2 linked regions of the Homo sapiens genome follow. The protein of the gene in region 2 interacts with the protein of the main gene of each other region in a pairwise test. Each region holds a gene or a part of one and is shown on either strand. Other genes may lie near its edges.

Region 1 (3,190 bases), on a different chromosome or scaffold from region 2:
AGAGCTGCCAGGAACCTTTATTGGGGTCATTTGCCTTTGTTTCCCAAACAACCTACTCTATGACTTCTCTGATTTTTTATTTTTTTCTGAGACAGGTTCTTGCTGTCACCCAGGCTGGAGAGCAGTGATGCAATCTCAGCTCACTGCAGCCTCGACCTCCTGGCTCAAGTGATGCTCCCACCTCAGCCTCCCGGGTAGCTGGGACTACAAGTGCCTGCCACCACGCCCAGCTAATTTTTCTATTTTTTGTAGAGATGGGGTTTCACACCATGTTGCCCAGGCTGGTCTCAAGCGATCTGCCCACCTCGGCCTCCCAAAGTGCTGGGATTACAGACGTGAGCCATGGTGCCCAGCCAACTTCTCTGATTTGCTATAGCATCTCTCTCACACTCCTCTCCCCTCCTCAACACAGTGATTTACAAGTTTTCTCTAAAACTGTAGTTTCATCTTTCCAAAGAAATCCTGTCTCTCCTCCATGATTATCTGCTGACTGTCACTTCCTATCATGTACAGGGAATGTGCATTCCCATCCTGTAAGAGCATCTGTCCTCCTCTTCCCACCCAACCCCTCCTGGAGGCTTACGGTCATTTTTGTGGACTATCTGGAAGTTCTTCACAGACGCCTGAGTGACCCGGCCACGGAAGTTGAGGACATAGGACTGAGTGTCACTGTTCCAGACGGGGGCCTTGTTGTGCAGCTCAACCAGATTTTCCATAGTTCTGTTCTGCCACCTTGAGAGCAAACTGTCATGGTTCTGTCCAAAGGGAAAATCATTACTTTGTACTGAGAACTCCAACTCTACGAGGTAGAAGGTAGAGTAGGAGAATACTTTCTCCATTTCAGAAAGGGTAAACCAGAAGCGAAGAATGAAAGCCAACAATGAAGACAGGTTTTTTTTAAAATTATTCTACATCATCCAGCATTTCTCTTTGTAGAAAAAATGGTTTCAAGGCAATGACTCTGCAACTGCTCTTATCCTGAGGTTTTGGAGGGGCAGCTTTCCTAAAGAAGTGTATGGAGCTATCTCCAGTGTGGGGCTCTGGAAGCTCAATCTTTTTTTTTTTTTTTGTATTAATCTCTGTGTATTGTACTACTGTCTTTTAGAGTCTTTCACTGATTTAAATACATTCTTACTCACGTTTTGTGGCTGATAGGGGATCTGCTTATGATTCAGTGTCATTCCAGGAATGATCACAGACATTTTCCTAGGACCTTTAAATCCAAGTACGTTTGTTTCCTGGAAGATAGGAAAACAAAGCAGAACTTGGAAACAGGAAAAAAATAGAGACCACATTCTTTTATAACATGAGACTTTCTTGGGAATGTAAGATGCTGACAATATCAGCTGTATCAGCCGGGGCAGTGGATCACGCCTATAATCCCAGCACTTTGGGAGGCCGAGGTGGGCAGATAACCTGAGGTCAGGAGTTTGAGACCAGCCTGGCCAACATGGTGAAACCCTGTCTCTACTAAAAATACAAAAATTAGCCAGGCGTGGTGGCAGGCGCCTGTAATCCCAGCTACTCGGGAGGCTGAGGCAGGAGAATTGCTTGAACCCAGGAGGCAGAGGCTGCAGTGAGCCGAGATCACGCCGTTGCACTCCAGCCTGGGCGACAAGAGTGAGACTCTGCCTCAGAAAAAAAAAAAAAAAAAAAAAAAAAAAAAAATCAGGTGTACCAAAAATAATTTTATTACTTTGCTGTAAACAGAATCAAAAACAGGAAAGTAATATTATATCTCTTTATACTTCTCTTTTTTTTTTTGAGACAGAGTCACGCTCTGTCGCCAGGCTGGAGTGCAGTGGCACAATCTCAGCTCACTGCAACCTCCAATCTCCACCTCCTGGGTTCAAGCGATTCCTGTGCCTCAGCCTGGGACTACAGGCGCATGCCACCACGCCTGGCTAATTATTTTTTGTATTTTTAGTAGAGACGGGGTTTCACCAAGTTGGCTAGGATGGTCTCGATCTCCTGACCTCGTGATCTGCCTGCCTCAGCCTCCCAAAGTGCTGGGATTACAGGCGTGAGCCACTGCACCTGGCCTATACCTTCTTTAAACACCTACATTTAAAACAGAATCTCTTGGCTTGAGAGTTTACTCTTAACTATTTTTTTTTTGGGACCAGAGTTTCACTCTTGTTGCCCAGGCTGGAGTATAATGGCACAATCTCAGCTCACCACAACCTCCGCCTCCCGGGTTCAAGCAATTTTCCTGCCTCAGCCTGAGTAGCTGGGATTATAGGCATGCGCCACCACACCCGGCTAATTTTGTATTTTTTTTTTTTTTTTAGTCGAGACGGGGTTTCTCCATGTTGGTCTCGAATTCCCGACCTCAGGTGATCCGCCCATCTTGGCCTCCCAAGGTGCTGTGACTACAGGAGTGAGCCACCACGCCCGGCCTCTTACTCTTGAGTCTTAAATGTGATTTGAGATAACTGTGAACAAACTGTTCAACTTTGTCAGCACCAACACATATTTATTTCCCAGTGAGGGCATAGCACTATATTACATACAGTGAAAATTAGTTGTGGTTAAATAAGGCCTGCACTAGGTATTAAAAATGCCTGTCAAGCCAAGCAGATTATTCTTATTTTATTTTGAGATGGCGTCTTGCTCTGTCACCCAGGCTGGAGTGCAGTGGCACAATCTTGGCTCATTGCAACCTCTGCCTCCTGGGTTCAAGCGATTCTCCTGCCTCAGCCTCCCGAGTAGCTGGGATTACAGGTGCCTGCCACCACGCCTGGCTAATTTTTTTTGTATTTTTAGTAGAGACGGGTTTTTGCCATGTTGGCCAGGCTGGTCTCCACCTCCTGACTTCAGGTGATCCACCGGCCTCGGCCTCCCAAAGTGCTGGGATTACAGGCGTGAGCCACCACGCCTGGCCGATTATTATTATTTTTTAAACAGGGTCTCATGCTGTCGCCCAGGCTAGAGTGCATGGTGTGATCACGGCTCACTGCAGCCTCGACCCTCCTAAGACTCAGGTGATCCTCTTGCCTCAGTGCCCCCAGTAGCTGGGACTCCAGCGACTGCCACCATGCCCGGCTAATTTTTGTATTTTTAGTAGAGATGGGGTTTCACCATGTTGCCTAGGCTGGTCTCTCCTGGGCTCAAGTGATCTGCCCACCTCAGCCTCCCAAAGTGCTGGGATTACAGGTGTGAGCCACCAAGCCCAGCCAAGCCAAGCAGA
Region 2 (4,444 bases):
CTCTCCATACCTCTGAAACATCACTCTAATTATCAGCACATTCTTTGGTTCCTTGTTTTCTGAAACACTTAGCTTCTCCAGATCTTCTCTATCTGTGATCACTCTTCTGTCCTTTACTTGCACTTACTCTTTCTCCATTAAGTGGGGCTATTGACTCCCTTCTATAGGAAGTGGGTTACAGGGGCAGCACAACATAGTGGCAAATGGCACAGATGTTAAGGCTATGGCTCTCAACATGGGGGCAATTCTGTCCCCCAGAGACTATGTGGCAATATCTGGAGACATTTTTAGTTGTCAGAACTGCAGTGTGGTGGTAATGGTAGTGCTACTGGCATCTAGTAGATAGTGGGCCAGGGCCATTTCTGAATATCCTATAATGAACAGGACATCCCCCAAACAAAGAATTATCTGGCCCAAATGTAAATGATGCCAAGGTTGAAAAACCCTGCTCTAAGCTAGACTCCCTAAGTTCAAATAGTATCTCTAATACTCATTAGCTGTTAACTTTGGATGAGACAATTAAACTTTCTGTGCCTCAGTTGCCCCCATTTGTAAAACTGGGATAACAATAGTAATTATCTGAAAGGACTCTTACAAGAATGGCATTAAGTTATTATCTGTAACGCACGAAGATATCACCTGGCACATGATATCATCTAAATCTCAGCACTTACTACAACCACAGATGAGATTGGGGGAACTTCCTAGAAGATTCTAAATGACAAATGTTCCTCTTAGAGATTGTAGCAAAGACTGACAGGTGTGTGTGTACCCCCTTTCTTTCTTAGTATTGGAATCCTAATTTTACTTGAGGTTGCACTCAACCCGGGCAACCAAGTGGGGCCAATGAAATGCAAGTATAAATATTGTTGGGGACTTATGGGAAGGTTCCTAAAAGAGAGAGGTTCATCTTTTTTTGGGCAGCTCCTCTTCTAGCTGGAATGCACACATGATGGCTAGAGATCAAGCAGCCACCTTGGACAATAAAGTGGCCTAGAGCAGGTGAGACACTGCTAGGATGGTAGAGCAGAAAGACAGAGCCTGAGAGCATAATAGGGGAGCTGCCACACTAGCCCTGTATTGACTCTTGATACTTTTGTATGAGAGAGAAGCCTTTACCTCGTTTAATCCACTGTCATTTGGGGTCCTCTTTGGGGAATCTAATCCTAAGTGATTTCTGTACTTCAGGCAAAGCACCAGGAGAGCACAGCATACCCCCACAGCACACTTCCTGACTTGTAGGAATGAATTTTTGCTGAAGTTCTCGAACAGAAGTGGATGGTCCAATATCCACCAAAAGGACACACACATTGTTTTTAAGTCCTTGGGATGGAGCTTTCTCATTACAAGATACATCCATTACATGATAAACTCAGCTTTCTCATTCCATGATCTAGGACACTGGAGAAAAATCCAGTAAAACCATCATCTACCACCAAGAAAACTGGAGGGAAAAGTCCTCCCAATGCTACATGAATTTGTAGCCAAGAAAGGATATAGACTCTCACAGAGGTTAGACTGACGTCTTCGCATTGAGCTAAAGGCACTGGCTTCAGCTCCAAACTCATCATTCCTCCAAAAATACATCTCCCTCATCAATCTACATTTTCCACATGTTTCCAGTTCTGGCTTCACTGTACCTTAACTGAGTGGTCTGCAGGGTAAACTCCTCCCTTGGAAGTGTCTATTTAACCTCAGAAATGGCTTTTCTTTGTGTACTGTGAACGCAGACTAGCACTCCTCAAATTTTAATCTGCCCTTTAATTTTCCAGATCTTGTAAAAATGTAGATTCTGATTTAGGAGATCTGGGGAGGGGGCCTGACATTTTGCCTAACAAGAGCCCTCTGTAATGCAAAAGCTGCTCATCTCCAGGCCACACTTTCAGTTCTCATGAATGCAGATTCCCACTTTCTAGGATAATTCATTCCTTCTTTTCCAACCTACCTGACTCTCCCAAATTCACCTACTCTCGTTCGTCAACTCCCCTCGCATACTGTTTTTACATACTTTATTGAAGGATGTAAAACTAAGCATGAGACTGGCCAAGTCAGGCTACTGGGGCTGTACTGACCTTCCATATCTGTTCTGAGTATGGAAAGCTGAAAGAAAGCTCTGCTCACCTGGAACCACACTGTCTGGAGCATGGCTGATGACCCCTGGCTTCATGCACTGCCCTCTAGGTTTGAAAAAGTAAGAACCTGCGGAGCTAAGAGAGAACCACAATGAGACTGATCTGTCTCGTCTCCTACACTTGCCGCCTCTTCCCCTCTGTCTCCTGCCACTAGCATTGCAGATATTCTTGGCACACTAGCTGCTGTCATTCACCCTCTCCACTGATTCATGGGATGTTGCAAATGCTCCCTCTGCATATTCTCCTATAGATCTGCTTGGTGACACTGGAAACTCTAGAAAGAATATCTGTAAAGTAAGAGTCAAGAACTGCAGTGGATTCGTGGCTGTTTTTTAAAAAAAATTCTTGGCCCCACTATGAATGCATTACTAAACAGTTTGTATTGAATGCTTCTAGTGTTCATGGCAAAAACCCAAAACAAGTCTCTGGAGAGAAAGTAGGATATAACGGGGACCCCTAAACAAACCACAGGCTGCAGGACAAAATATAAGTGGTGACCCAGCCCCGGGTGACAAGGGTAAGACGCTTAATGTCCCAGCGGGTGATGCTGACCGAAGACCTAACCGGGATCTGAACGCTCCACCCTGGGAAGCAGGAGACCCTATAGTCACGGCTCCCATCCTCCCCATGAATACCGCGACCCGAGGACATCAGGCCAGCTCCTCGGAGCAGGAAGGTCGAGGGCGTCTCTGAAGACTGGGGACTGGGCCCAGGCTCTGGCGGCGGCGCGGGCCCCTCGGCGACCTCTGCAAGGGCCCAAAGCCTGACCTCCAGAACAGGTAGCCGAGTCAGGGAAGCCCGGGAAACTCAACCCGAGCGCTCGCAAGGTGGCCAAGACGGAAGCATTAGCTGGCCGGCCGTCGGTCCCTACAGCCTCTCTAGGAAGCCGGGAGGCTGGCCCTTCTCTATGGTTCCCACGAAACGAAACTCCAACCCTTCGCTTCCCTTCTCCACAACCGCTCTGCGCCTGGTTTGTTTGTTTTTTAATTTTAATTTTTTCGTGTGTTTTTTGAAACGGGGGTCTCGCTATGTTGCGCAGGCTGTTCTCGAACTCCTGAGCTCAAGCTGTCCGCCCGCCTCGGCCTCCCAAAGTGCTGGGAATACAGGCGTGAGCCACCGCGCCCGGCCGCTCCTGTTTTTCTTTATTATTTTCTCTTATGTCTTAGTACCCCAACTACATGATAAATTCCTCCATATTTAACAATTTGTAACTTAATTAACTGAATTCCTAATTCCTTACCTAATTACTTAATTCCTAACTTAACCTTCTAATGAATTTATAGCCCCTGTCTCCCACTGAATGACTGTGACCTAAGACCATGGGGTATGGTGTCTCATTGTCTGCGTTCCTGGCTCCACTCTATATGGACTTGCTCAAGTTATACTTAAATCGTTGCCTCAATTTATCAGTTGAGAATGGTAAAAGTTTGTAATTTATAAATTCAGTGAATTAACTGAGTCAATTCATGCAACAGTTTTGTAAACCAAAAATAAAATTCTAAGTCCCCCAACCAACTGAATGGACCACTTCTCTCAGCCAAAACATTCCAAAGAAAACCTGGCAATCTAGTTCAGGCCATGATGGGAAGCAGGGGATCGGACTTGCCTCGTTATGCCCTTGGAATTCAGGCACTACGGACCAGCATTAACATTAAAACAGAGATCTTGAGACTGACTAAAACTTTTTTTTTTTTTTTCCGAGATGGAGTCTTACTCTGTAGCCCAGGCTGGAGTACAGTTTCCCGATCTCGGCTCACTGCAACCTCCGCCTCCCGGGTTCAAGCAATTCTCCTGCCTCAGCCTCCTGAGTAGCTGGGATTACAGGAACGTGCCAACACGCCCGGCTAATTTTTGTATTCTTAGTAGAGACGGGATTTCACCATGTTGACCAGGCTGGTCTTGAACTAGACCTCGTGATCGCCCGCCTCGGCCTCCCAAAGTGCTGGGATTACAGGCGTGAGCCACCACGCCCAGCCCAAAACAAACTCTTTATAGCAATAAGACATCAAATTCTAACCTGACTCTAGTATAGTCTCATGTGACAGATAACAGGCCCTGAAATAAACTGAAGTATTTTACCCTAAAATGTATTTCTTTGACATATTTTGAAATGACCCTGTAAAGCTGTCTTTTGTGAAGAAAATCTACATCCTGTAAAGAATCCCCTTCACTTTCAAAGTGTTTTCCTTGATCCAGTAGAGAATTAACTAAGAGTTTGGCACCTTTTGAAGTCTGGTAAGAAACATTTACAATCGTTTCTCTCTGAAGCCTGCTACCTGGAGGTTTCATCTGCATAATAAGAACATTGGTCT

Evidence for each region.
Region 1: the proteins of ZNF619 (region 2) and TULP3 interact in a two-hybrid assay, tested with the Homo sapiens proteins (one large-scale study listed by BioGRID and IntAct).

The regions. Positions count from the first base shown.
Region 1 is NC_000012.12:2,935,679-2,938,868, reverse strand, and holds part of TULP3 (tubby-related protein 3), read right to left. Parts: intron 1,239-3,190; coding exon 1,140-1,238; intron 756-1,139; coding exon 584-755; intron 1-583. UniProt on the Homo sapiens protein: Negative regulator of the Shh signaling transduction pathway: recruited to primary cilia via association with the IFT complex A (IFT-A) and is required for recruitment of G protein-coupled receptor GPR161 to cilia, a promoter of PKA-dependent basal repression machinery in Shh signaling.
Region 2 is NC_000003.12:40,475,681-40,480,124, reverse strand, and holds the start of ZNF619 (zinc finger protein 619), read right to left. Parts: upstream 3,004-4,444; 5' UTR 2,768-3,003; intron 2,208-2,767; 5' UTR 2,168-2,207; coding exon of another isoform or gene 2,146-2,167; coding exon 2,122-2,145; intron 1-2,121. UniProt on the Homo sapiens protein: May be involved in transcriptional regulation.